7 linked regions of the Homo sapiens genome follow. The protein of the gene in region 4 purifies or fractionates together with the protein of the main gene of each other region. This does not show direct contact. Each region holds a gene or a part of one and is shown on either strand. Other genes may lie near its edges.

Region 1 (4,605 bases), on a different chromosome or scaffold from region 4:
TCCACTGCTTCTTATCATTTAAGGTGTATACTCCTGAAACAAAAGGCAAGAAATGAGCCAAAGGAAAAGTCAAGTCTGCACCCAGAGCAGAGTGAGAAGGCATTTAAGGAGAAGAATTAAAAAGAAGAAGAAGAAAGGAGGCAGACAGGAAGGGAGAAAGGAGAGAGAATATGAGAAGGAGGAAGGGAAAGAGTGCTGTGCTGGAAGCCAAGTGCCTGGACACCAGTTAAGCCCAGCAGAACACACTGTGGTCATGGCGGTCACAGCCAAGCAGTACAGGGAGGGCTCAGGGTTCAAATCCTGACTCTGCCTCTTACAGGCTGCCTGAATTTGGGCAAGATACTCAACCTGTCTGTGCCTCAGTTTCCTTATCAGCAAAGTGAAAACAATAAACTCTGTTCAGAGGGATACTGTGAGGACTAAGTGAGCAAATAAGTATAAAGCCCTTAGAGCAGTGCCAGGACAGCAAGACTCACTAGGTGAGGGTGACATCATCATCAGCATTCCTTCTTTTCCCACATCTGCTGGAGATGTAAATGTGACTCTGAGATTTACATGAGGTAGGCTGCATGGCATCGCCTCCCCTTAACAAAACAGAAAACTTGAGGCTGACAAAAGTTAGTCTGCCCAAAGGGCCATGGCTACTGGCGACAAAACGCTTATTAGAATCTAAATCTCCTGGCTCCAAGGAGAGCAACGAACTTTCTGGCGAATCACCTCAGCACCACCCATCATGGAAATGTCAGAGAAGGGGGTTGTATGTAGGGCATGGAGACAGTTGTCCACATCTTACCATCTCCTTCTGTGCGCAGTTTGTAGTAGTTCTTACACTGGTAGCGAACCGAGTGCTCCACATAGCCATGTGCAATCTCGGGGGGCTTCGGGCAGCCGTCATCTGCAAAGAGAGAGAAGCCAGAGAGTTTGCTATTTGGAAATTGTTCCCAGTGAACCGTGAAAAGTCAGATGAGCGGGAGCTGCTCTGCACATCAATCTCCTTCCACCCCGAATAGAAGCCAATGGAAAGGCAAGCTCCCCTCATTTCTGGCAGGAACCCCAATGTTCTTTATGGTCCTGAAAGCCCAGAGGTCGAGATAAGAAGGGGGAATTGGGTGTTCTCAGAGAGAGTGCAGACCCGAGAGGGTCAGAGTGGGATGCACACTCCTACCCAACCAAAGACTGACCTGCGATATCCGTGACATCATTGCCTGAGTCCACTGCAAAAAGCTGTCCCCAGAGCAGGAGGGCAATGACAGCTCCCAGGGCACTGCAGAGAGAAGACAAGGAGGAGTGGAAAGCTAGTCTCCCTGCTTCACAGCACATGCATGCATCCACACACACATGCATGTACACACACACACACACACATGCATACACACACACTCCTCCCACTTAGCAGCCAGAAAAGAAAGTCGATATATGGAAGTGCTAGGACCAAGAAATTGCCCCCACACCTGCCCATACACACTTTAGCAGCTTCTGAGCATACCAAGCTTCCAGCAAGCCCTGTCCTGCTGGGAATTCTGCAGAAGCTTCAGAGAGGGATAGAAAGGCACATAGGTGGAGGGGTGGGCTCAGTTTCTGGCTGCATTCAGGAAAGTACATTGGCAATAATACAGGAGCCCTCCAGGAAAGAGAAACCTCCCTCAGACACCGCAAAGATAGTGGTAATAAAATGTAGATAACTCAGAGATGGGAACTTTGGGCTTACTGTGCTATTCCTCTACTTCTTGATATTTTCCGTAATAAAAGGTTCCTTAAATATATAATTTTAAACACGTGGGTATTTCTAGTATTTTATAATAATTCACCTTTAGGAAATGGTATCTGAAACCCCAAAATGCCAGAAGGTTACCTGGAAGAGAACTGGTGTCCAAAAGCAGGACGGTGGCCATGGGCATTGACCCACAGGTGCCGTCTGCCAGTTCACCATCTCACTAACAAATGCCAACCATTCGGGCACTACTTGCTTCTATTAAAATAGTTTCTAGGCCAGACACGGTGGCTCATGCCTGTAATCCCAGCACTTTGGGAGGCCAAGGCAGGCAGATCACGAGGTCAAGAGATCGAGGTCATCCTGGCCAACATGGTGAAAGCCCGTCTCTACTAAAAATACAAAAATTAGGTGGGCATAGTGGCGCACGCCTGTAGTCCCAGCTACCTGGGAGGCTGAGGCAGGAGAATCACTTGAACCTGGGAGGTGGAGGTTGCAGTGAGCCGAGATCATGCCACTGCACTGCAGCCTGGTGACAAAGCGAGACTCCATCTCAAAAAAAAAAAAAGTTTCTAGTCTTATTATTTCAACATTTCAAAAAGTGTTTATTTTTATAAGATCTAAGTGCCTTAATTAGATGTATCCCAGGTATTAGTGTGTATCCCAGGTACTAGTCAATTAATTGTGTCATTCAAATGTGTTACTATTAGTCTTCCTTATTGTACATTTTTAAAGAGGAAAATATCTGCTAATAAATATACTCAGGATGCCAGGAAGCCTACCACGGGAGCTGATGACATACCCTATAAAGTCAAAAATGTAACCTGAAGGAAAAAGACACTCCTGAGAGTAAATCTTATCTCCTGGGAAAGACAGCAGCACTGTCTTCTATGGATGCAGAAAAGGAGAAGATTTAACACACTAAGCCCTTTGGTTCACTATAATTTAGCCCATTTGCCCGTTTCTTTGTTCTATTTCTGCATCTCTACCGATGTATGCAAAAAAGACTGAAATAAAGAACCAGAGGAAAGGCAGGAGGGAAAGCTGTGGACCCACCTCATCTTGGTTGGTCTTGCCTCTGGAAGAGCAGTGCTGTGGGGCATCTGCTGGTCTTTTTATGCTGCCACTAGCTCACTTCTCCCCCTTCTCCATTTCGTAATTCCTGTGTCTACAAACTTTGGCCCTGGTAAGGTCACTATCTTTTCCAGTAACAAAACCACAAACAATACCCCTGTTAAGAGTTGAGCTCTTGCTTCACACTTGATTTTCTTGTGATGTTCTATTACAAATCCCAAGAAACCTGGCAACTCTATGACCCACAAACCTGCCAAAGTATTTCCTGAAATCAGCAACTGGGCAGGACAGGGCGGCGGCAGGAACCATCAATCTGTCTCTTTATCTTGGAGGATTTTCACACTGCAGAAAGGCTCATTTTGAGTTTTTTCAAACCCATTGTAGACATTTCTGCAGCCTAGCTTAGGTGGGGCTCTAAAGAAAGTACTTCCTTTTCACAGTAATTTTCTCCACCTTGTGTGTGGCCATCTCCCTATTGCTTAAAAGCTCTCCAGCCTGAAATCAGTAAATGTGTTTATTGTGTCTTCTCTGATTGCTCTTTGCAAGAAATCACACAACTAGTTAAAGCTATAGTGTAGACTGACACAGACTATACTCAATGGCAGTGGTTCTCATGGTTTTATAGTCTGGTGATTAGCCTAAATAGGCAGATGAGAAAAATCAATATGTCTCAGTCAAATGTCTGCACCTGTGTGTATCCCAGGTACTAGTCAACTGAAACTTAGTAGCAACTCAATACAAGGTTGATTTATTCATTAAAAAGGGTTAGTTGTTCTTAAATTAGAGTGTACAAAAGAATTACTTTTGGATAATCATGGTGACACTGATATAATAGCAAAGTAACTAGAAACAAGACAAATGCCCATCAACAGGAGGAAGGGTCAATACTGCATTGTATGTGGATATAATGGAATATTATACAGCATAAAATGAATAAACTCTGCAAGAACATGGATCATCTTATAAACATAATTTTTGAAAGAAAACCGCAAGTTTCAGAAGATTACCTTCAGTATGATGGCAGTCTTCTAGAGATCAAAACCAAGTAAAACTTGGCAATGGATTCTTAGATAATGACACCAAAATCACCAGCAATCAAAGAAAAATTAGATAAATTGGGCTTCATCGGAATGAACATTTGTGTATCAAAAGACAGTATTAATAAAATGAAGACAGGCCAGGCGTGGTGGCTCACGCCTGTAATCCCAGCACTTCGGGAGGCTGAGGTGGGCGGATCATGAGGTCAGGAGTTTGAGACCAGCCTGACCAATGTGGTGAAATTCCATCTCTACTAAAAATACAAAAATTAGCCAGGCATGGTGGCGCATGCTTTAATCCCAGCTACTCGGAGGCTGAGGCAGGAGAATTGCTTGAACCTGGGAGGCAGAGGTTGCAGTGAGCCTAGATCGCACCACTGCACTCCAGCCTGGGTGACAGAACAAGACTCTGTCTCAAAAAAAAAAGTGAAGACAGTCTACAGAATGGGAGAAAATATTTGCAAATTCTATATCTGATAAAGGGTTGTTATCCAGAGCATATCCTAACTACAACAACAAAAAGACAAACAATTAAAGCATGGGCAAAGGATTTAAATAGACATTTCTCCAAAAAATATACATAAAGTGCCAAAAAGCACATAAAAGATACTCAAGGCTGGGGAGTGACTCACACCTGTAATCCCAGCACCTTGGGAGGCCGAGGTGGGTGGATCACCTGAGGCCGGAAGTTTGAGACCAGTCTAACCAATACGAATATGGTGAAACCCCATATTTTCTAAAAATGCAAAAATTAGTCAGGCGTGGTGGCATGCATCTGCAGTC
Region 2 (3,863 bases), on a different chromosome or scaffold from region 4:
ATAGTACTTGCCTCCACTCCCCATTTAACAGATGACAGTCTAGGCTTGCTGTGGGGAATGATAATGATGACGATGACGACGACGAAAGCAGCCACTATTCATAGAGCCCTCACTCCCTTACCCTAGTGTGTAGGTGGCCCAGCTCAGGAAGTTTTCATATTCCATTTTTCTGGACACACTGATTGGCTCAAGAATGGGCAACTGACTCAGGCTCATTCAGTGAGAGTCAGCCCTGAGATGTTTGCTGGAACTATTGGAAAGATAGGTTCTTCCTGCGGTGATTGCCAAGCTGATAGGATATGAGCCTAATGCAGCCTGGGGCACTACCATGAGGGAATAGCTTGCCTGAGGATGAAGGCAGCACAGAGGAAAACAAGGCTGCTAGGTGGGAGAGAGGAGAATGAAGAGGATATTGTTTGAGCACCTGGGTCCAGCTATTCCCGAAGTCAATAGCATCTAGACTTTTTAGTTATAGGAGCTAATACAATTCCTTTTGTGCATATGAGTTGAGTTTCTGTCCAGAGATTCCTGACTAAGAAAGTCACAGGGTTAGAATTGGACCCACAAAGCTCCTGGCTCTTGGTTCAGAGCTCCCTGTCCCCTGTCCCTGCTAAGTGATGAGAGTGGTGGAAATGTTTAACAAAGCAAGAGGGCGAACAGGAAAAGTAGACAGAAGGGTCCCCCTGGTTGCTGCCAATATCGCAGACAACTGAACTCACGATGCCCAGGGTGAACAAAGGGCGGAGGGCTTCACTGGAGGGAAACACTTCCAGCACGATCAGTTGGGCCACCTTGGCATGGCCTTGGTCTATAAAAAACTCGGGAGTGTCCTGAGTTAGGATCTTCACGATCTGGGTAGATCCCAGCTTATCTGCAGCCTGGAAGGAGATCAGACCCACATGTGGCCTCCCAAGTGCCCACCATGGCCCACAGGCTCTGTGTGTGGCCTGGCCCCTGCCTGCCTTCCTGGGCTCCCTGCTCCCTCACGTGTTCCAGCCACCCTGTCCTTCTTGCAGATCCTTGAATGTTGTGTTGTTCTCCCTACCTGGCAGCCTTTGGTCTCCTGTTCCCTCTGTCTGGAATGCCCTTCCCTTCAGGGAGGCCTCCCTGACGTCCCAGACTGTATCAGGGGCCCAGAGTGTTCTCATGGCCCCTAGAACCTGTCCTGTGTTACTGCAGCTGTAATGGAAATACTATCCATGTGATGATTTGCTTCAGGTCAAACTGGCCTGCTAGACTGAAATCTCTGTGCGGACAGGGATGCGGTTTGAGTGTCCCAGTGCTGGAATGAAACACTAGTCCCACTAGATTCTCCTCCCCAGAGGCCTGTGTCCAGACCACAGCAAACACCCCTCAAGCTGCAGATGGCAAACAGACCAACCTTTTCATTGATCAGCCCGATGCTTGACTTCAGCCGATGGGCACTCTCAGGAAGCTGAGGGTGAGAGGAGCCAGAGAAGGTCAGTTGGAGGGCACAGGGAGGCACATCTCCTGCACCCCACTGCTGGGAGGAAGGTTTCCCAGGACCCCAGAAAAGCTGGGTGGGCCCAGTGACCCAAGCCATGTGTCTGTCATTGGTGGAAAAACAGCCCCTAGGTCAGCTTCTATGGGGCATGGGGTCCTGCTGGCCTGGACTTTTACTGTGGGCTGGTGATGGTTGTGGGTCTGGGGGCAGCTTCCTGATCTCAGAGGACATAGAGAGGTGATTTCATTTTTACTGCAATCATGAATGGGCTAGTTGGTGACCACTCCCTATTTTCTCGCCATCCCAGTCCCCTGAGAGCTTGGTTATTGGTTGTCTGTCAGCTGCCCTGAAGTTCTGCCATCCTCCCATAACGTTGGACCAACCCTTTCCCCCTCTGGACCTCAATTTCCCCGTCAGTCACCCGGGAGGAGGTGGCACAACATAGTTGACTGGTGGTGGTTATCGGCTGTGCCCTGTTAATAAGGATTCCAAGGTTGTGTCAGCATCCAGACTCAGTAGAAAGGAGAGCCTTGATCGATTAGTGATGTCTGCCATGAGTGTCATAGTGGTGAGCAGTGGCACAGTCGCCATCCCTGGACTACTCACTATCTGAGATGTATTTATCACCCCTGGACTACTGCATATCTAAGATGCCTTTTGATTTCACGAGACTGTTATTTGGTAGAGGAAACATTTGCATCAGATTCCAGAGGGTAGAACCATGACTGGGGCTGGATGTTACCGGGAGGATTTTAGGTTTAGAGCTATGTCAGAGGCAGGGTCTATTAGAGGAGGGAGTGAGATCTCCATTAAACTGAGCCTGATGGAGGATTCCTGCTTAGGGGCACCCTGTGTTCAGGAAATTCCTATGATGTGGCCTGGGCGGCCCTATTCTCTGCCTTGTGCTGAGGTTTACCACAGAGTCCAACAGGACCATGAATTCTTCTGGAGAGAGCACAGCAGCCACTGCAGCTTTCACCACGTCCTGACTCACGATGAGGCTGAACGGGATGTTGTCCAGGGTGGGCATTGTCAGGGAAGCTGCAGAGTTATTGAACCACTTGGTCACCTTTCCCTGTGAGTCCAACAACTTGGCCTGAGGAGACAGAGCAGGGAGTCAGCTAAGAATTTTAACTCTGCAGCTTACCCAATAGCAACCTAGAAGGAAATGACACCATTCAGCCTGTTTCCTTTTTGTGCATTTGTTGCCAGGAAGCTTAGCCTGGAGCTCAGGTGTGTGGCAACATCTACTCCATCTTTGCCCCTCGGATAATCTCTGACTTTTATTTTTTGTACCAGATATCTTCGTTTTTTTTCCCATGCTTCAACTTCTCAGACACCTCAAACCCTTTGGATGGAGGGAAAATTAAAAACTACAACAAAATGGAAGAAACGATTTGATGCTGCAGTTTTCCAAAGGATCCATAGAAACTAGTCCAGGGGCCAGGCGTGTTGGCTCATGCTTGTAATCTTAGCACTTTGGGAGGCCGAAGTGGGAGGATCATTTGAGCCCAGGAGTTTGAGACCAGCCTGGGCAACATGGCGGAACCCCATCTTTACAAAAAATACAGAAAATTAGCCAGGCGTGGTGGCGAGTGCCTGCAGTCCCAGCTACTCAGGAGGTTGAGGTGAGAGGATCGCTTGAGCCCAGGAGGTCAAGGCTGCAGTGAGCTGTGATGGCACCACTGCACTCCAGCCTGGGTGACAGAGTGAGACTCAGTCTCAAAAAAACAAAACAAAAGAAACCTAGTCTGGGATTCATGCTACCAGGATGGTCTGGCCCTTTGGGGCGTCCAGCCACAGCATGGCTGTGCAGCTCCACATTGGACAGGGAGCTGACAGTTACTGGGCACTTCTGGTCTGCCAGGCATGGTGTGGTCTCATTTCATCCTCTCCTCAGTGGCCATTATTACTGACATTTTGCAGACAAGGAAACTGAGGCTCAGGGAGGTAAAGGAACTTGCCCAAAGTCACATAGCCAGGGAATCATAGAGCTAGGAGAGAAACTTAGGTCTGTGTTTCTTGATCCTTGGCTTTTGTTTCAAGGTTGTCATAGGTTTGGGGATTGGCAGGGACTTGCCTGAGAGAAAGGCTGAGGGCCCAGTGTCCCCACTCGGGCCCCCCCATGTCACTCTGGGTGACAGTGAGACTCAGTCTCAAAAAAACAAAACAAAACAAACTTGCATGGGACATATTCAGCCTGCAGTGATTTTTCTAGATCAGCCCGTGTCCTAATGGTGACCAGGATTTTCTCTCCTAACACAGGCCCATGCTATCTGACTCCTGGTGGTCAGAGAAGGGCAGCAATGTCCCCACTTCACCCTCAAGGTCCTGGGACACTCACCCCCAGGTAGAGCTGAATGGTGTCACCCTTGATGGCAGGATACAGAAGGTCAAA
Region 3 (4,381 bases), on a different chromosome or scaffold from region 4:
GGAAATTATGGGGCTTGGATCAATTGTTCAGCATTGGAATCCCCTGGAATTTTCATGTGTTGATTGGATTGGTAACTTCACACAGATTTAATTTTGTTTAATAAAACAACTAGGACACTTTAAGATTCCTTAAAGAACTAAAAGTAGAACTACCATTTGATCCAGCAATCCCACTACTGGGTATCTACCCAGAGGAAAAGAAGTCATTATTTAGAAAAGATACTTGCACATGCATGTTTATAGTAGCACAATTCACAATTGCAAAATCATGGAACCAACCCAAATGCCCATCAATGAACGAGCATCTTCTTCCCTTCCATTGACCAAAAACAAGTTTTTAAAAAGAAAAAATGTACAATACCACATGCCACTTCCTGATAACATCCTACAGGCTCTGGTGGTTGTCTACTGAGTAGGAGGGCTCAAGTCATTATTAGGAGAAAATTTTCTAGCAACAGAATCACATTAAACCAGCAAACCTCTTGATCAGGGAAATGCAAATCAAAACCACAATGCGATACCACCTTACTCCTGCAAGAATGGCCGTAATCAAAAAATCATAAAACAGTAGATGTTGGCGTGGATGCAGTGATCAGGGGACACTTCTATACTGCTGACGGGAATGTAAACTGCTACAACCACTATGTAAAACAGTGTGGAGATTCCTTAAAGAACTAAAAATAGAACCACCATTTGATCCAGCAATCCCACTACTGGGTATCTACCCAGAGGAAAAGAAGTCATTATTCAAAAAAGATACTTGCACACACATGTTTATAGCAGCACAATTCACAATTATAAAACTGTGGAACCAACCCAAATGCCCATCAATCAACGAGTGGATAAAGAAACTGTGGTATATATATATATATATATATATATATATATATATATATATATATATATATGATGGAATACTACTACTCAGCCATAATAAGGAATGAATTAACAGCATTTGCAGTGACCTGTATGAGATTGGAGACTATTATTCTAAGTGAAGTAACTCAGTAATGGAAAACCAAACATCGTATGTTCTCACTGATATGTGGGAGCTAAGCTTTGAGGACTCAAAAGCATAAGAATGATACAATGGACTTTGGGGACTTGCGGGGAAGAGTGGGAGAGGGGTGAGGGCTAAAAGACTACAAATATGGTGCAGTGTATACTGCTCGGGTGATGGGTGCACCAAAATCTCATCACCACTAAAGAACTTACTCATGTAACCAAATACCACTTGTACCCCAGTAACTTATGGAAAAATAAAATAAAATAATAAAAAATTTTAAAAACCCAGCAAACATCTCAATGCACTGGAGGTATTTGTAGGAGCATCTTTGAAGATCCTCCTTCTGTGGTCCCCAGGTAGGGTTTAGGAATTTGTATTTATTTAGCTCCTTAGGAAATTTGGACATATGGCCATGTTTGGGAACTTTAGATACTACTCTACATTTAGACCATACACTGCAATCTGAAAAGGAAAGGAAATGGAGACAAATAAAATGGTCAAATGTTCTTCTTCAGTCAATGAGGACTGGGTTCGGGGCCAGGAGAGTTATTTTCTCGTCCCTAGAAACTCCCGGCTACGGACCTTTGTTATTGTGTGGGACAGAAGGGAATTGAGATTCTTAGCCCACAGTGTCTCACAGCCCCATTTTCTTGGGGCAAAGCATCTTAGAGAGATTCTATTTTTTGGTGCCAACTGCTGTAGTGCCCAGTGCACAGGAAAAGGGTATAAATACCTAAGCAACTTCAAAATCTCTCCCATTTGTATATGAGTTTCAGATTGATAGGATGACCAGCTTAGTTCGAGTGACTAACCATCTCAGTTTACCCAGGACTGAGGTCTTTTCCAGAATGGGTTGTGGAGGTGGCGGGGGAGGGCAGAGTTGCAGTGCTACAACCAGGAAAGTTCTGGGCAAATCAGGATGGATGGTTGATAACCTAATTAGCATAGCTTATTTGAATACCTTGCTGCCCTTCAGGGCTAAGTGGACTGTCATCTGGCGGGAATGGGGTGGGATCTGAACCTGTCCCCATGCAGGGTTTCTTGGGACACTTGCCTCCATTACATTAGCTTGTCAAAACCCTGAACAGTTTCCTCCAGGACAGGATATCTGACCATGCCATAGAGAGTACCTCCAAGATCACAACCCAGAAACCCAGCATTATAAACCCTACTGCTATAGAGAAAACTCCCTAGATTGGGTATCGCTGCTTTCTCCCAGACCCTTGGCTCCATTTTCTACTTTATTTTACTTGCTCCAATTTTTCTGCTTCCTTCACACATGTGTTCTCAATAAGTTGACTTCTGAACCTGTGCTCTCAGGTCCCAGTATACGTGAGAGCAAGAGGTCATCATATTCATCTTCAGACTTCAGGTTAGGAAGAATGTCTAAGCTGCCAGTCTAGCTCAATCTCAGACCACAGGGCAGTGGCCAGGGCCTCTGGTCCTTTAGCCAGTCCTGCCAAAGCTGCCCTAAGCTGCCATTGGAATTCACAGACCTGTTATGCTTCTCTTCTAGGAGGCAAGGTGTGAGAAGGTAAAGTTTACTGAGCAGAAATCTGAACAAAGGTATAAATTATGAACAAGATGTGGATCAGCATGTTAGATGAAGACTAACTACTAATTACAGCCTGTAGGTACATTTGGAGCTTTATTTCCACTGGCAATGCAGAAACACCCAGCAAAAATGTGAGAGGAGTTGGTGGGGCTTCCTAAGAGGACAAGAAGTGGAACCTGGCAGGAGATCCATGGGAGCTCCTGGGACTAGAGTTCTGGGAAGTTGAAAGAAATTCTCAGAAAGAGATATGTAATTTCCAGACTGGGAGAGGAGCCCTCCCTGCAATTTTTTTTGTGGGGAGGAGAAGGGCATGGCTCACGTGTTGTCCTGAGCTTTGTTGGCCCCCAACTGCAGGCAGAGAACCAGGAGCAGGGTGGCAGGGCTGGCCCTGAACAGGAGCTGGAGCAAGCGCATGCTGGAGAAAACAGAAGGCAATGTGTCCCAGAGAAGTGGTGTCCCAGGTGCCCAGCACATTTCTTATATACAGATTGATCAAGGAAGTGCAAGAGCTGCCAGGGAGATCCATGAGGTGAATCACCCATTCACCCTCCCCACTCGTGATCTTTCCTTGTTGACCCAAAGTTTGTTTTTCTAAGAAAAAATCAACACTCAGCTAGAATGTCAGCGTTTGAGAGAGGAGTCAGATTGTTCTTCCTTATTTTTTCAGCATCAGAGTTTCTCAAAATGGCTGGGACCTCAAAAGATACACCAGTTTTTCCCGAGTTTACAGATTCAGTTTTCTTTTCCCTCCTAATTTGCCTGTCTGAAGTGCTATGTGTAGTCTTAGCTTCAGTCACTGCTCCCCTGGTCTCTGAAAGCAGAGAACACAGCTGTGGTGGCAGGTTTCAGACCAGAGACATAGAACATCTTTGCTTGATCAAATTATAGTGAGTTCAAGATGCAATGCTATTCAAAACATTTCTTGGAGGGCTAGGATGATCAGGACTTCCCTAGCAGTCACTACCCATCATGAGGTGGAAGAGCTAGAGAAGACCTGAGCTGCTCTACATGATGGGGAAGTGAGTTCAAGACACTGGGTGATGTAAAGATGTTTATTGTCATTGAGTCCTTCTTAATTTCAGGTGTGGTTGCAATATACTGCAGATGTCCAAGATCCCCAGCTGCCCCACAATCCCCAAGGCAGGGTGATATTTTAATTCTAGACAATTCCTATAAATAGCTGGCACCCCCAAATCAGACTTCTTGGCACCAAAGAGCTGGCTTATTTTCTTATTGACATGGCCACTTTCTTACACTTGTCTCATGCGTAAGCCACACAGGAAGAACCACAGTGGAAAGGATTCCTTCTGTGAGAATGGAGCCCACATTATGTCCAGTAGATACCCAGGTTGTAGAATTCCTCTCCTTGGGATGATGGGGAGACTTGCTCTTGCTGACACTGGCATTGTGTTATTTCTCCTTATGAAATTAAATCTGCTCCTTAACCTATGACTTACAATACTATGGGATTTGTTTCTATCATTTGCATGGCACACAGCTGCCCAGGAAGAGCCTCTCTGGCAACAGAGTGAAAATCAGAGTTCTAGGAGTTACCGCCTCTGTATGTTGCTTTAGCCAGGATTCAGAGCTAAAGTGTAAGTGTGTGCTTCTGCTTTCTGGATGTATCTCTCAAAATTGCTCTGTCTGTTTATTCAGCTCCTGGATCTACCTTCTCTTTTCTTTGAATTGGACACCATTCATGTCATTGCTCACTCAGAACTTCAGCTGTTCTCATGATCACATGCTTTCTTCCCTGTTTATGTCCTATCCACTCAAGAACACTGCTTGTGAGGGTCACAATGACCTTCCTTTGTAAGCCT
Region 4 (3,863 bases):
CACGCCTGTAATCCCAGCACTTTGGGAGGCCGAGGCCGGTGGATCACGAGGTCAGGAGATCGAGACCATCCTGGCTAACACAGTGAAACCCCGTCTCTATTAAAAATACAAAAAATTAGCCGGGTGTGGTGGCTGGTGGTGGGTGACTATAGTCCAAGCCACTCGGGAGGCTGAGGCAGGACAATGCTGTGAACCCAGGAGGCGGAGCTTGCAGTGAGCCGAGATTGCGCCACTGCACTCCAGCCTGGGCGACAGAGCGAGACTCTGTCTCAAAAAAAAAAAACAAAAACAAAAAACAAACACAAAAATAGCTGGGTGTGGTGGTGGGTGCCTGTGATCCCAGCCACTCGGGAGGCTGAGGCACGAGAATCACTTGAACCCAGGAACCAGTGGAGGTTGCAGTGAGCAGAGATCACTGCACTCCAGCTGGGGTGACAGTGTGAGACTGTCTCAAAACAAAAGCAAAACAAAAAAAAATTTCTGATATTAATACAAATTTATTATAGAAAATTAGGAAAAAAGATTTTTAAAAACCCACTCATAATTGCCATACTCAGACAATGCTTGTTGCCATTTTGGTGTATGTCCTTTTAGAGAACAACTCAAAATTGGAATCACTACACATGATGTTTTCTTTTTTTTTTTTAACTTATCAAAAATTAAGAATTATTATGAAGCTCTATTTCTTCAGACAGTCTGGAATAAGGTGCAAAACTGTACAAATTGACCAGCAAAGGAGAAAAGAGAGCCCAGAAGCAGACCAATACAAAAATGGAAATTTTATTCATGACCGAGATGACACTGCAAATTGCTTAGGAAAAGCTGACATTTTTAATAAGTGGCACTGGAACAATTGGTTGTGTGGTTGTGTGAATTTAAAAACTGAAATTGGAACCTTATCTCGCACTATGTATAAAAAACCAAATCCATGTGGATTAAGACTATACAAGGCAAAACTATAATGTTGAGCAGAAAGAGTAAGTTTCCAGCATACACATGTTTTCTAAAGCAAAGAGGATGCAGTTAATAAAAGGGATTATAGTATTGTTGTGAGGCCTCTAGAATGTAGAATCATGATGCCTGGGGAAAGCCTGGTTCCTTCAGTGATTCTGGGACAAATTACGTCACATCTCTGCCTCCATGTTTGCATCTTAAAATGAGATGATAACAGTACCTGTGTTGATAAATGAGAGAATACATGTGAGTACTTAGTATACTCCTTGGCATATAGTAACTACTCAGTATGTTTATTAATATCAAAGCCATGGCATCTTAGACTCTCAGGTCTTGATGGGCCCTAGAGGTCATCTGCCAAAATCCCCTCATTTTACAGGTGCGGCAACAGAGACTCAAACGAATTTTTTAGTAGATTTTTAGTAGATTTTAGATTTTTAGTAGTAATTTTTAGTAGATTCAGATATGTCCTTGCTCCCTCTCTGCTCAGAGGCTACCTCACGAAGCATTCTTGGTTTTCTTGCCTCCCTCTCCTTTGCCAGAAGGAGGCCATGTTAGTCTAGCTTTTGTTGGTGCTCTCATAGCCTTTTTTATGTACCTCTTCTGTAGCACCAATGTAGAGGTTGGATTTATGCCTTTATACTTTTGTCTCCTCTGCTAGTGTGTAACTTCCTCAAGGGCTTGGCAAATCTACTTTGTATCTTCAGAACGAAGCTTCTTGACAACTGCTAAATGAATGTGTTTTGGATGCTGGGGGAGAAAAGCTAACAAGTAGTAGAACCGTATCCAGCTGGTGGAAAGGGATAATTCCATTGTGTGTTATTCATTCATCTTACAAGTATTTGTTGAGTGCTTACTCTGCCAGACAGGGGCCTATACAGGGGATACAGTGCTATGTAGGACAGACTGGCCCCTTTCTTGTGGAGCTTACAATCTAACGGGAAAGACAGACATAAAACAACGAGTTCCGTGCTATGCTTATTATTTTGTCGAATGCTATGGAGGAGAATACGGGTGCCAGGAGAGCCAAGAACAGAGCACCTTGGCTTGACTGGGTGAAGAGAGGTCAGGAAAGGCTCTTCTGAGGAAGGAGTTGGTCAGCCTCCATCTGAAGGATGAGTACAGGGTGGCCAGCCAGAGGGCAGAGTGGAGTCCTGGATGTGGGAGTAGCATGTGCAAAGGAGGAGGAAGGAGCACAGCACATTCTAGGAACTGAAGGAAGACCCGAGTGGCAGAGAGTAAAGCTGAAGCTGGTGAGGTGGCCAGAGGTCAGATTCTAGAAGGCTTTGTTGATCATATTACAGTTTTTTTTTTTTTTTTTTTTTGAGCGAGGGTCTTACTCTGTCACCCAGGCTGGAGAGCAGTGGCATCATGGCGTCATCACGACTCAATCCAGCCTTGACCTCCCGGGCTCAGGTGATGCCCCCAACTTAGCCTCCAGGTAGCTGGGACTACAGACATGCACCACCATGCCCAGCTAATTTTTGTATTTTTTTGTAGAGACAGGGTTTCACCATATTGCCCAGGCTGGTCTCGAACTCCTGGCCTCAAGCAATCAGCTCACCTCAGCCTCACAAAGTGCTGGGATTACAGGCATGATCCATGGCACCTGGCAATATTACAGATTTTTTAGTTCAGCCTAAGAGCAATGGAAAACCTAATGGGTTTAACTCTGAGTACTTGCTTTTAGAGAGATGTTGACATAGGAATAAAGGGTGACCAAGATGATAAAGGATCTAAAGTTGTGTCCTGTTTGAAATATTGAGTCCAAAGAAGAAAGAAAAGAGAGTTATGTGATATATGAAGGAATGTTATGTGTTAAGAGGAAGTAAGCTTGTTCTGTGTTGCTGCAGAAAGTATACCTCAGACTATTAGGTAGATGTTCAAGGATGCAGATCTTGCATAAATGTCAGAGACAGCTTCCTGATTCCTAGAATGGGTCATGAACAGAATGGGCTGCCTCATGGGATGCAGGAGGTGTGCAGGGAGAGGCTGCCAGTCCACCTGCCCGGGACTGTCAGGAAGTCCATGTATGGCGGGAGTGGCCTTTAAGAGTTTTTGTGCTCCAGGAGTCCTGGGTCTGTAAATCAGGTGAAGTCTGCACATTTCATACTGTCTTGCAAATGATTCAACAAACCTGAAACTTGATTTCATCTCTTTCTTTAATCTGAAAATTCATAAACTTGAGATTTTGTAAAAAATAAATTTGTAAGATGGAATATGTCCGTTTTTACTTTATTAATATTAGATATTTGAAGTTGTATTTAATTACTTAGGTAAAAGAATCCTTAGGGAACAAAGAACTGTTGTTATTGGTAGGTTAGTCTGAAGCTGACAGTCATGGCTAAAGAAAGCCGACATGTAAAACCAAGTCATTATTTCAAGCAAAGAGGAAAATAACATATTCTGAGAGAACCCAAAACTCCAGAATAACAAGCACTGGCTACTCAAGGGATGCTTTTATATTCATTTGTAAATCAGAAAAGAAGGCCAAAGAAAATAGAGGAATTGGATGTTCCTTCTCCTAGGGGAAGTTTGGACATCATGCATTTAAGCACATTCCTGTAATGGAAATAAGAAGCAACAGGCAAGAGATCCCTAGTGCTGTGTAGCCTGTAATCCGCAATCAGGCAGAGACTCGGGGACTCAGAGACTCGAAAGGCAAGGGAGGTAGGAAGTAATTGTGGTAGAGGTGATGGATGGAGCAGCATTCTCATTTGGAATGGGAACAGGGCGTAGGAATTTTCTCCAGGCCGTCTGAATCTGGAGGAGCAGCTTGAGAGGAGAGAATGAGAGAGATCCAGGCGCTAGGGTAGAATGGTAATGAATGTTTCCGCTTCCTGGGCACGGGCTGAGATGCGCATTCCCCCTCGCCCCTCTCTCCTGTGCGGTCTCCAGTGTGCTTTGTT
Region 5 (3,244 bases), on a different chromosome or scaffold from region 4:
CTCACTGACAGTGGGGAACATGGCCAAATGGTTGCCCCCACAATGGAGGCAGAGTTTCAGGACACTTGTCTGATCTCTGCCCTTGAAGGAACAGTCTCACCCTGATTGACACTTTTGCCTGTTATGTCCAAAGAACCAATGGAAAAGCAGGAAAATTATTCCTTCTTCATTTCTCTCTTCATTATTTAAAATTATTCTGTCTTCACTTCTCTCTCCTTTTCTCTGCTTCCTACTTAGCTCTTTAGAAATGCAATTATAATCTTTTATCTCCCCTTCACCAGACACTCCCAACAGGGCAAGTTCATCTAACTATGTGCTCTTAGTTAGACGCTACAGAGCAGAACTCTCTCCCACCAAGAGACTACCTTGAGACATAACAGTCAATTCACAAGCCAAAATATGCCCGCTATGAAACTCTCCCATCTGGAAATTTTTTGGCTGCTTTTACAACCTAGTTTTGCCCACAAAGGCACCAGCAGTAACCAACTCAACTGCCTGGTAGACAAGGCACCAAAGCCAGTACCCAGACCCTCTACCTGCTCACTTCCTGCCTTGCATGCCACGCCCCCCATTTAAAAGCCTCTGCTTTCTGCTCCAAAGGTGAAGCAGTTACCCTTAAGGAAAGAAGCCTGTACTTCTTCCCCTAAGGTAGCTTTGGAATAAAAGTCACTTTATACCAAACCTAGCTCTTGTTAATTAGACTCTGCAAGTGATGAGCAACTGAACCTACATTTCAGTTATAATTCCTATGCTTGCTCTTCCTGCCCTGCCTTGGGGACACGCACACACTCCCAGGCACATACATGCACGTGCACTGAGACAGCTATGTGAATAACCAACAAGATCCCCTTAGGAAAACCGGTGCTTGGCCTGGCCTTAAATTCCAGACCCTTGGGCATCATACCCAAGACTGCAAGAAAGAGGAGGGGCTGGACCTGAAAAACTTGGAAGGGAAGGTCCAACTGTACAGGTATTTTGTCAGGCATGTGATTTCAGTATAAAATTCTAGAAAAGATGAGTGACACTTTATAAGGAGAGAATATCAACAAAATTTCTCATTTTACTTCTTGCTAAGACGACAGCAGGGAATTGTAAGCAGATGGATGGGCAATCCCCACCTTCAGCAGGGGAGGCCAAGGCCCCAACACACCTGGGGAGAAGAGCTGGGGGCAGTGAATGGCTGAGGCTTTCTTGGGGAGCTGGGCCATCTTCTTCGGTTTTACTTCCTGAGGAATTCACAGGCTTCCAGGAGGGCTGTGGGACACAACAGAGCAAGAGATTCAGAAACTGATTTCTTCCATTAAACCAGTTATTTAATCCAATAAATCAAAGAGAATACTAAGAGTTTTCTCTGCCCTTCTCCCATCACTGAGTCAGTGCTTGCCACACTCATATTCCCACTCCCCTACTCCTAGCGACTACGGTGTTCAAGGGAGCCAGAGTCTAGCCCTCACCAGCCAGGGTGTTTCCCTGCTCTGGCCTGAGAGACACAACCACCCTGCACTTGTCTCTGATTGAATCGACTGTCACATTCTCAAGTTCACAAGACATTGGTGGTCCTCTAGCTTCTCCCGGAATGTGAACCTGTTTGCAATCATGTTCACCTGCAGATTCACTCATTCATTCACAGATCCTTACTGAGCACCTGCTTTGTGTGAGTTGCTGTGCTAAGTGCTGGGGACACAGCATGGATAGACTGGCCTGCCCTCAAGAAGCATGTGGTCTATGCAGTCCTGAGCTGGCTGCTCACAAGAAGAGCCCTGTAGCCATATTTCTCAGAGGGTGGTCCTGACCTGCATCACAGTGACCTGAGTTGTTTGTCAATACAGAAAAGGGTTTCTCAACCTTGGCACTATTGACATTTGGGGCCTGATAATAACCCTTTATTGCAGGGGGCTGGCTGTGCTTTGTTTAGTAGCATCCCTGGCCTCTACCTATTTGTTACCAGCAGCACCCTCTATGTTGTAAGAATCAAAAAAATGCTTCTCACATTGTCAAATATCCCCTCAGGGGAAAAATTGTCTCTCATTGAAAACTACCGATAAAGACATTTCTGGCCCTGCCCCCATCCTTGGACCAACAGCATCCCTAATGCCCCCAACTCTGGGTGAGGGACCAGGAATAGGAATCTGAATGATTGCAGTGCACAGGGAGCTGTGCACACTGAAATCCCACAGTTATCACCGGGAGCCTTACAATACTCTGTGATGTCTTCTAAATATTTTTAAGGGATTAAATTAATATCAACATATTTCCCTGGTTAAGATGTGTTTTCCTACACTTGAATTTTTTTGAGATTTTGTTTTCTCTATAGTTGGCATCTATGGTAACTGTCTAGAATCAGATTTTTTTTTTTTTTTTTTGAGGAAGGGTCTTTCGGTGTCACCTAGGCTGTAGTGCAGTGGTACAATCATAGCTCACTGCAGCTTCAACCTTCTGGGATCAAGCAATCCTCCTATTTCAGCCTCTCAAGTAGCTGGGACTAGAGGTGCTTGACACCACACCAGGCTAATTTTTAAAATTATTTTTGTAGAACAAGGTCTCTCTGTGTTGGCCACATTGGTCTCAAACTCCCGGGCTCAAGCCATCCTCCCACCTCTGCTTCCCAAGGTGGTGGGATGACAGGTGTGAGCCATCACACGTGGCTGGTTTTGTCATTTCTCAATGCATATGTATATATGCACCTTTCATTTTACTGAATAAAATGGATTATCAGTTTCCAAAGATTTCATGACAGTGCCATCACTATCCGTACTATAAAATTTATAAAAATTTATTACATACTGCTCTATTTTATTCTCTAATTATTTTATCAATGAGATTATAATTTCCTGAACTGTAAAGAGATATTATCTTTCCTTAACATTTTTACACCTGTGTTCGTTCCTAGAATGCTGTTTGGCCCTCAAACCTTGACCTTCACCCATGGTGGTTTCTCGGGGATGCTAGCTAGGGTCTACTTACGGGAGGTTGAGCACTTTTTCAGATTAGTAATGCCTGCGACATACTGTGGTCCCAAATATTTTTCATATGTTGTTTTGCCATGGAGTCTGGCCAGACACTCAGTGTTGTCATTGAACAGAAGGTTTTTGGTTTCAGACTGGAATAAGCAAAACTTGTCCGGGCAGTCAGATCCATTTCTCCCAAATTTAGCCTGCGACAAAAGGGCAGACAGTGAGTAGCTAAGGAAAAGAGGAATTTATGGGTTAAAGGAGGCAAAGGGGTATTTCTTCCACCCAAGAAC
Region 6 (4,598 bases), on a different chromosome or scaffold from region 4:
CTGAAGGCACTGTTCTAGAAAGCCACAAGGCTCCTGTCGTCCTGGTTATCCTTTCCCCTGAGACACCAGAGAAGAACCACAGAACCCCTACAGTGAGTTTCAGACTGCATTCTGTCAGCCCTTCCTTGGGCTTACTATGGTGACAGGAGGTACTGGCAGTGCGGCCTCCTGTCTTCTGGTGTTTGGGGTTTTATCAGTTAACTTTTAGGATTATCATATGAAGTCTTGGCAGGGCCTGAGCCACTCCCTTCCGCTACTGTGAATTTGACACCTCAAAGCACCCTGGGACTCATGAGAAGAAATTGAAGGGGTGCCTCAACCACCACCCTGAGAAGTGACACCCAGTGCTGAGAGTTCAGTGGGGTCTTTGATGTCTTGGAATCATTAGAGTCTTCAGCTCTCATTCAAGGTCCCCACCTTGGCTTCATGTAGGGCTTGGCACCAGCCCCCTTCTGCTGAGTGGTGGCTACACCGTCAGACTAAGAATCTCACCTCTCTTAGATCTTATATAAAAAAGAGAGGGGGACACTAAACCTGATAACCCTTTCCTGAGCTTTCTAGGGCTGAAAATAAAGGGTTGGACTGGATTCTTTGATGTCTCCACTGTTAAGGGTTCAGTGGTTCCTTGAATTCTCAGATTCCTCAATTTGACTCCTGGTAGAGGAGCTCTCCTTTTTATTGAACTGAGGCCTATGTCGTCATGGTAAGAGTGAACATCCCTGAGAACCCATAGGAGGAAGTGAGGGTGGCCTTATCTGACCAAATGTGGTCTTCCCAAAAGTAAAAGCTGTGGCAGGCAGATAACTGCCCTGTGATAGATGGTCCCACATACAGTCCCAACTCAGCCTCTAAATTTGACTCATGAGAGGGTCTAAGATTCTTCCCTGATATGGTTTGGATCTGTATCCTCACCAAATCTCATGTCTAACTGTAATCCTCAATGTTGGAGGTGGAGCCTGGTGGGAGATGACTGGATCATGAGGGCAGGTTTTTCATGAATGGTTTAGCACCATTCCCCTTAACGATGACTTCTCATGAGATCTGGTCATTTAAAAGTGTGTAGCGCCTCCCCTGGCCTCTTGATCCTGCTCTGGCCATGTAACATGTCTGCTTCCCCTTCCCCTTCTGCCATGATTGTAAATTTCCTGAGCCCTGCTCCCAGAAGCTGAGCAAATGCCAGCATCATGCTTCCTGTACAGCCTGCAGAACTGTGAGCCAATTAAACCTCTTTTCTTTGTAAATTACCCAGTCTTGGGTATTTATAGTAATGCCAGAATGGACCAATTAGTACATTACTTCTGTTGACAAGTGATCACCACCCTCAGATTAAAACTCTCATTTCCCTGTTACCCTTGAGTGGGAACTGATGGGCACCTCTGTTTCACATTTCTGCCTGGGGTCTCTCAGAGCTGACAGTACTGAGGATTGTGTGGCTCCCACTAATATGGGGTGGGAGCCCCCTGCAGTCGTCAGAGTTCTTATCATAACATCTGGCACAACCTGGAAACCCTCCCTCTGCTGACCTCAAGCTGCCTTTTTTTTTTTTTTTTTTAAGAGACGGAGTCTCGCCCTTTCGCCTAGGCCGGACTGCAGTGGCTCTATCTCGGCTCACTGCAAACTCCGCCTCCCAGGTTCACACCATTCTCCTGCCTCAGCCTCCCGAGTAGCTGGGATTACAGGCGCCCGCCACCGCTCCCCGCTAATTTTTTTTTTGGTATTTTTAGTAGAGACAGGGTTTCACCGTGTTAGCCAGGATGGTCTCGATCTCCTGACCTCGTGATCCGCCTGTCTCGGCCTCCCAAAGTGCTGGGATTACAGGCGTGAGCCACCGCGCCCGGCCAGGCTGCCCTCTTTAATGGGGTCGTTCACTTCTCTGAGATGTCTTGGGGAGAGTGAGTACAACTCAACATGCCATGCTCAGGTCTCCCTGGTCTGACAACAAGAGTGGGCTCTATATGGCACTTCTTTCTGGTTGGAGTCCCCTCCTCATCACTCAGTGTCACATCCTTGCTTCCTGTTAGAGACTGGGCCTCTCTGTCGCATTAGACCTACCCCATTACACCAAGACCCTCACCTCCCTGAGACCACCTCCAGAGGAAACTAGAGAGCATCTCAGCTTGCTAGCTTTGCCCTGACCTTCCTATTGCTGGCAGCAGATGTGGGTCTTGGATGTAGCCCTCAACTTCTTTAGTCCCGGGAGAGGAAGTCAGGTTGCTCTGCATTTGTCATGTCAGCCTGGGACCATCTAAAACCCAGTGTCACCTCGGCCTGGGAACTGCCCAGCATGACTCCTCTTTTGGGTAGAGGTCCGCTCATTAATACTCAGAGTCCTCACCTTAACCCCAGTTAGGTTTTAGGTTGATGCCATATGAGCAGAAGCAGGGCTGCTTCCTAGGTTCAAGGCCCTCCCCTCCCTGAGACTTTCCAGGCACAGCTTTGCTGGGGCCTCCCAGAGCCGTCTTCAGGGACGAGACTTAGTGAGGCCACCTTTGTTAAGGGTAGGAGATGTTCTCTTCAGTCCACATTTAGGGCCCTCAAATTGATTTCAGTTAGGGCCTACACCCACCCTACGTGCAGAATGAGGCCTATTCCCTGCGTCCAAACCTCCTTCCCCCGCGACTGCCCCTCCCCCCACCCTTCCCCTGCCCTGGAACTTTCCAGGTGGAACATTGCCGGACGGCTTTACCGGAGCCTCTCAGGACCAAATGCAGAAGCGGGACTTAGTGGGGCCCTCTTTGTTACAGGTGGGGGTGGTCTCTTCAGTTTACACTCAGGGTCCTCACCTTGACTGCCGACCAGTCCTGAGAATTCACCCCTGGCTGACCAGACGCCGCACCCCCTACACTCGCTCGGGTCCTCGCCTCCAAAGCGGAAGTCAGGATGAGCCACATCCGCTCGGGTCTTTTTTTTCAAAGCGGAAGTCAGGATGACTCACATCCGGCAGCCCGTGGCGTCTGAGGGCTGACGGCTGGACGCTACCGGACGTCACTGTTCTAGCGTTGCTGGTCCCTTCGTCTCCACTAGGGGTCCTCACCTCAGTATCTAGCAGCCTGGGACGAATATGCGTGCTGACCCAAATCCGCCAGCCTCCAAACAATACCCCCACCTCCCTCAGCCCCCACTGTGGAAATCTAAGCGTGCCAAACAGGCCACCCCTGCCTGGGCCTCACAGGCCTGACAGCAGCGGCAGGGCTCTGTGAATGTGCCTTTTTTGGGGAGAGGTCTTCTCATCCGCCCTCAGAGTCCTCACCTTGATTCCCGTGAAAGCCAAGACTCTCTCTCTGCACAACTGGGGTCACCCTCTTCAGACAAAGGCCCTTCCTTCCCCGAGACTATACAGGTGGAATGAAGGGGATTCAGAGATACTTATTTTGGGGCCTCTCGGTGCTAACAATGGCGAGGGGCTCTGTTTGGCCCCCTCTGCTGGTGTTGCAAGGGGGAGAGCCCCCTCGTAACACTTAGGATCCTCACCTTGATTCCTGTTAGGGCGTGGGTTTTGTCTCTTTGACCTAGGGCCATTTCCACTAGTCCAAGGTCTTCACCTCTGTGAAACACACGAGGCATATTGATGGGATTTCTCCACCTCATAATTCTCTTCTGGGCTCCCCAAGGGTGACAGCATTGGTGGAATTTGTGGGCTCCTCTGTTCTGGGGTGGGTGGTTTTGAAACTGCCCCTATGAACTGTATAAAATTAATCAGGGAAGAGGGAAGGGAGATAAATGAAGATACGCCAAGCTTGCAGAACATTCAGCATTAATCATGAAGTCAGCTGCTCTCTGACCTGCTTCCTCATAGTAGTTTGGTGCCTATTATCCCAGAATCATGTAGATCCTGTTACTAGATTATAGTTGCCCTTAATTGCTCTATAGATAACAATTTTAACATAATGAAACTTTTTTTCTTTGAGATATTCCTTAAGGTCCTGCATACTGATGATTCTAATGACTCAGCTGGTCTGAAGGACCCCACTGATGCCAGCTGCTCTAAAGGACCCTACTGACATCAGCTGGTCCAAAAGACCCCACAGGAGCTGACTAAAAAAAAAAAAACGCAGTTTCCACATTCTGATGATTTCATCCCCTTTACCCCAACGAATCAACAACCTCAGTTCTCCAGCCCCTCGCCCTCCATGATCTCCTTGCAAATCCCAGCCCAGAACTCCTTGGGGAGATGAATTTGAGAGTCTCTTCTCATCTCCTCACTTGGCACCCTGCAATCATTAAACTCTTTGCTGCAAACTTTGCTGTTTTATTATAGTGGGTCTGTTACTTTGCAGCTGACACAGAAACTCGTTGGTCCTATAACAGTTCTCTTATTTCTCTTCAGGGTCCTCACCATGACACCTGGCCAGTCTTGGGGCACTCCATCCTCCACTGACCTGAGGCTGTTCCCATCAGATCAAGGTACTCACCCTCTGCCGACCTCTGAACTGGAAGTTGTGGTGAGCTACATTTAGCCAGGGCTGTTCTGGACTTTGAAGGGCTGACAGCCTGAGCTGGACTTTTTGGGACCCCACAGTTCTGGCTGGGTCCTTCCATCATCTTCATTCAGGGTCCTCACGTTCATATCTATCAGAGGCTGAACTGCATCTACTGAC
Region 7 (4,296 bases), on a different chromosome or scaffold from region 4:
GATTTACCCCGTCCTTCAAAAGCAACAAAATCCTTTGCCCTCTTGCAAGGTTCCAACCAGATCCCATCTCCTCTGGGAGCCTTCCCTAAGTTCCCAAGCAGAAGGGGCATCTCCCAGTCATCCCTGGCCTGCTGTGGAGGCGCCCATGGGAGCAGAGGGGACGTCCCTTGGGAGGGGAGGGGACAGCCTCACCTGGGGGCTGAGGACTCAAGAGTCTCTCAGATCCTGGTTTCAAACCGCAGTGCTCACTGCTACTCACTGCCTGTGTGGCTACTCTGTGCCTCAGTTTCCCCATCTATACATCTGCAATGATTCTAATGGTATCTGTCACATAGGATCATTGTAAACACTCAGTGCACAGCAAATGCTAGCTTCTACCATTGCTATTTATTTTTGTAATAATAGCGGCAATCGTTTATGTTGTGATCCTGTAGTGCCAGGCCCTGTTCTGAGTGCTTTACTTTTCCTGTTATCGTGCCCAGTTTACAGAGAGGTGAGGGCACCTGGCCAGGGAAAGCTGGCTTTGGACCGAGGGACCTGGCTCCCGAGCCTCTGGGCATCCTCACTCACCTGTGCTGCTGAGCCCCAGAGAGGTGCTAATTAAGCAGGAGTTGAATTAGAATAAGAGGTGATGGTGCTGGAAGGGAGCTTCAAATGAGGAGTCAAGAGGCCTGCCCACTGCTCAGACTCACTGTGGGAACTTGAGGAGTCCCTGCACCTCTCTGGTTCTTAGTCTCCCCCAACAAGAAGCATAAAGGCGGTGGTTTCCATGTTTCCCAGCACCCCTCTCCCACCTAACCATCTGCAGCTGAGCTGGAACTCACACCCAGACCTCAGACTCCATCTACAGTGCTCCCTTGACGCAGGGTTTGAACTCTGGGGCTTGCAGGATGGGGTGGGGAGGACACTGGAAGTAGCCACTCAGCCCAGCCTGGGGAGCAATGCGTCCAGCGTGGGCCTCCAGCCAGATTTCTGCCAAAAACAAACACAGGCAGGCAAGCTGGGGAGGGCTCCCTGGGGACAAAGGAGGCTTGCACAGGATGGGCAGAGGGCAGGAAGGCGGCGGAGGGCGCGGGCCTCATGGCCCTACCTGCAGGCATCCATGAATGGCTCCATGTCATGCTCTGGCACGGATCACTGACCCCTTTCATTGCCTGCCCATCAGCCCGGATATGAGGTCCCGGAAGGCTGTGTTTACCCAGGGGTGGGGGAAACCTGCTACTTCCCTGAGCCACTGCTTCATGTCCTGGGCCACTGAAGGTCCCATCTACTGTCTGACCTGACTTTCTCACACTGTAATCTGAGTTTGGCCTTGGGGGAAACCGCTTCTGATCTCCTGGCTTTGGTGGGAAACCAAATTCTCACCGGGAGGCAACTCGAGGTGAATAAACATGTTTGTGCTGGCGTCCTGGACCTTGGCAATGTCTGTCCCTCCCTGGGGCTAAGTTTCTTCATTGTGCCCTCCTTAGGGGATTGGGGCAAGACTTGGAAGGATCTAGCAGCACAGCCGTAAGACAGAGCCCTCGCACAAGTGGGACCCAGAGAGCGGATGGTTCTCTCACGCTGAGCTCAGAAGGGATATAACTTTAGAACACTCCTTGCATCACGGTGCTAGACAGACCTCTCCCAAGAACACACGTGCGTGCACACACCACATACGCAAACGTGTACACCCAGGGTGAACAGCCGTACCTGTGCACACACATCCAGGCAGCATCATGGGCTTGCACCCTCCCCGACACTTAAGTACACACGTGGGCACAGCTCTATGAAATTTCAAACTCATAAGTAGACACACACAGGTAAAAATAGCCCCTCAAACCGACCTATGCCCACATCACCAAAGCATGTGAGCAAGTCACATGTGCACACTTGCACACTGGCCACATGACGTACTCCCCCCTCACGCATTTATGTAATAAGCATTTGTTGAGCAGCGCCATGTGTCAGGCACTGTCTGGGTGCCAGGGACACAACTTCCAATTAAAATCTGGGTCCTCATGGGCCTTTTGAGTTCACAGCTACGCACACACACTTAGGATTGCACACGCATGTACAGGCTCACAGACACTCACTGGGTAACACACCGCTTACCGTAGCTCAATGCTGCCTTGTTGAGTCGGACCACGGTGCCTGGCGTGGAGGCACCGACCACGGGCAGCAGCAGTGCCAGCAGCAGGCCCAGCCTACTTGCCCAAGCCATGGCTGCCCTGGCCGCTGCCCACAGGATCTGTGGGCTGGGGTAGAAATGAGCATCAGGGAGCTCAGCCAAAACAGCCCACCCCTGAGCCACCCGAACCCCACTCCAGCCTGGAGGGAACAAGCCCTGACTGGTGATCCCAGCCCTGCCCCAGGCCCACAGACATCAGTTTTTGCATCTCTGCATTGGGAACCATCACCTTGCCTTGCTTGCTTCATCAGGAATCATGGGGGAGTCCCTTCTGGAAATGACCCGCAATGCCCAGAGAAGAAATGGTCTTGCCTAGGGCCACACAGTGGACTGGGACCAGGTGCAGGACCCAAGCCATGGCATAGAAGGATGGTGAGACTCCCAAACGGGGAGACTGAGGGTAGTTTCCTGTCCCAAGAAGATGCCCAGGACTGTATCACCTGATGCCGGAGTCCAGCCCCGTGTGACAGCCAGCTTGGTGTCCAGCTGTCCACCAAATTCAGCCAGGGGAGGACCCAGGGTGGCTCCTGTCCTCATCCCCTCCTGGCCAGGTGGTAAATGGCCTAAGAGTAGGCCTCTCACATGGCCCCCATCCTCTCCTGACTCAGTCTGGCCAAATAGGCAGATCTGTGTCTGACTCAGGGAGAGGGAGCCAGGCAGGAGTGAGGGACTGCGGCTCAGGTGGGTCTGCTGAGACCCAGGATGGCGGCACTTGCCCAGGTCCTACAGCAAGGCCAGGGGTGGAAGGACCCTTCTGCAGAGGGTGGCTGGAGGTAGCATCCCCACTGAACAGATAGAGAAGCCAAGCCTCCTTGGAAGTGGTGTACCAGCCCAGCCCCATGCCTACCTCAGGTGGTTCCTGAGACAGGTGAACTCTCAGCCCCAGGGTAGCCCTCCTCTGCCCGAGGCAGGCAGATGCAGAGGCTACTTTATAAGGCTCCCAATGTGCAGAGTCCACTGGGAAGGGACCCAGGGAGCGGCGAGTTTGCTTGTGGTTGCAAGTGTTTTCCCTGCAAACATGGCCTTTGCCAAAGTGTCTCATCCCACATGTGCGCTGGGGCTGCCACGTAGCCAGTAGCCAGGCCCAGCTCCCAACCACTACAAGCCCCTGGGGCTAGGCAGCTATGGCCTTAGTGAGGGCCAGGAGATCTCTGGAAGGAAAGCTGCTTCTAGGAGGGTATCTTATCATGCCCAGCCAAGGCCTGGGAGGATGGGGCCCATGAGGACCCCATCCCCCCTCCCATAGGCAAGGGGATGGCTGCAATGACCCCTCAAGCCTGGTACCTCCAAGCTCTCTCGGAAACATGACCCTTTTAGGAGGGGCAGAAGGCTACCTGAGCACCATCCTCAGTCATTGACTGAGCCCTGACCCTGTCACATATTCACACACTGAGTCCTGACCCCAGTTACTGAGCTCTGACCCTGATCACATGCTGAGCCCTGATCCCAGTCACAAACTGAGCCCTAACTCAGAAGGGAACAGAAGAGAAAGTGTGCGTGACCTGTCCCCACAGCTTAACATCCCAGCCTCTCTCCAAATGCACATTCCACTCACAATGGATTAGTCCACGGTCTCTTTCCACATTACAAACGTCAGCCTCCGCCTTGGCTGGATGGGACCCAAGGAACTGTGTGTGCGCATGAAGGAATTTGCATATGCACATGTGTGGATGAGGGTTGTGTTGATACATGCATGTGAGTGTGTGTGCATAGTCACATGTACGGGGAAAATGTGTGCTCTTATGTGTGAGTGTGGACATGAAATGGGCACGTTGGCATCTTGGTTTATGGTGTTGTGTGTCTATTCACACAATCCAACAGGACCACAGAGGTGGGGAGTTTTGTGTACATGTATGCATGTGTGGGCTTGGCCTACTGAGTGTTTGTGGGTCTGTGAGTGTGTGGTGTTAGGTGCATGTGTGTATGCAAGTGGACTGTTTCCTGGGATGGGGAGGTACATGTATATATGTTCTTGTGTGTGTGCATATATGTGTGCACAGCAGGCGATGGCCTTTCCATTTTTCTTCATTGGCACAGGATGACTTGGGGCCTTTCCCCAACTCCAGGGCACTCTTTGACTCCCACTGACCCCACACCAGCCCAAATATCAGGCCCAGCTCCCAGGC

What was found.
Region 1: the proteins of DDX31 (region 4) and HP purify together in Homo sapiens (affinity purification with mass spectrometry; 2 studies listed by BioGRID and IntAct, with this or other methods). This does not show direct contact.
Region 2: the proteins of DDX31 (region 4) and BPIFB1 purify together in Homo sapiens (affinity purification with mass spectrometry; 2 studies listed by BioGRID and IntAct, with this or other methods). This does not show direct contact.
Region 3: the proteins of DDX31 (region 4) and PIP purify together in Homo sapiens (affinity purification with mass spectrometry; 2 studies listed by BioGRID and IntAct, with this or other methods). This does not show direct contact.
Region 5: the proteins of DDX31 (region 4) and LTF purify together in Homo sapiens (affinity purification with mass spectrometry; 2 studies listed by BioGRID and IntAct, with this or other methods). This does not show direct contact.
Region 6: the proteins of DDX31 (region 4) and MAGEB2 purify together in Homo sapiens (co-immunoprecipitation; 2 studies listed by BioGRID and IntAct, with this or other methods). This does not show direct contact.
Region 7: the proteins of DDX31 (region 4) and BPIFB2 purify together in Homo sapiens (affinity purification with mass spectrometry; 2 studies listed by BioGRID and IntAct, with this or other methods). This does not show direct contact.

What each region holds. Positions count from the first base shown.
Region 1 is NC_000016.10:72,052,820-72,057,424, reverse strand, and holds the start of HP (haptoglobin isoform 1 preproprotein), read right to left. Parts: upstream 2,921-4,605; 5' UTR 2,773-2,920; coding exon 2,768-2,772; intron 1,265-2,767; coding exon 1,182-1,264; intron 896-1,181; coding exon 794-895; intron 34-793; coding exon 1-33. UniProt on the Homo sapiens protein: As a result of hemolysis, hemoglobin is found to accumulate in the kidney and is secreted in the urine. Haptoglobin captures, and combines with free plasma hemoglobin to allow hepatic recycling of heme iron and to prevent kidney damage.
Region 2 is NC_000020.11:33,299,931-33,303,793, reverse strand, and holds part of BPIFB1 (BPI fold-containing family B member 1 precursor), read right to left. Parts: coding exon 3,810-3,863; intron 2,562-3,809; coding exon 2,382-2,561; intron 1,436-2,381; coding exon 1,382-1,435; intron 879-1,381; coding exon 720-878; intron 1-719. UniProt on the Homo sapiens protein: May play a role in innate immunity in mouth, nose and lungs. Binds bacterial lipopolysaccharide (LPS) and modulates the cellular responses to LPS.
Region 3 is NC_000007.14:143,130,711-143,135,091, reverse strand, and holds the start of PIP (prolactin-inducible protein precursor), read right to left. Parts: upstream 3,016-4,381; 5' UTR 2,976-3,015; coding exon 2,881-2,975; intron 1-2,880.
Region 4 is NC_000009.12:132,663,133-132,666,995, reverse strand, and holds part of DDX31 (ATP-dependent DNA helicase DDX31), read left to right. Parts: intron 1-3,578; exon of another isoform or gene 3,579-3,624; intron 3,625-3,669; exon of another isoform or gene 3,670-3,771; coding exon of another isoform or gene 3,772-3,774; intron 3,775-3,863. UniProt on the Homo sapiens protein: May have DNA helicase activity and RNA helicase activity. Probably have ssDNA and RNA dependent ATPase activity. Plays a role in ribosome biogenesis and TP53/p53 regulation through its interaction with NPM1.
Region 5 is NC_000003.12:46,434,976-46,438,219, forward strand, and holds the end of LTF (lactotransferrin isoform 1 preproprotein), read right to left. Parts: intron 3,155-3,244; coding exon 2,965-3,154; intron 1,255-2,964; coding exon 1,220-1,254; 3' UTR 670-1,219; downstream 1-669. UniProt on the Homo sapiens protein: Transferrins are iron binding transport proteins which can bind two Fe(3+) ions in association with the binding of an anion, usually bicarbonate. Lactoferricin binds to the bacterial surface and is crucial for the bactericidal functions.
Region 6 is NC_000023.11:30,213,841-30,218,438, reverse strand, and holds the start of MAGEB2 (melanoma-associated antigen B2), read right to left. Parts: upstream 2,877-4,598; 5' UTR 2,784-2,876; intron 1-2,783. UniProt on the Homo sapiens protein: May enhance ubiquitin ligase activity of RING-type zinc finger-containing E3 ubiquitin-protein ligases. Proposed to act through recruitment and/or stabilization of the Ubl-conjugating enzyme (E2) at the E3:substrate complex.
Region 7 is NC_000020.11:33,006,482-33,010,777, reverse strand, and holds the start of BPIFB2 (BPI fold-containing family B member 2 precursor), read right to left. Parts: upstream 3,075-4,296; 5' UTR 3,018-3,074; intron 2,238-3,017; 5' UTR 2,204-2,237; coding exon 2,095-2,203; intron 1-2,094.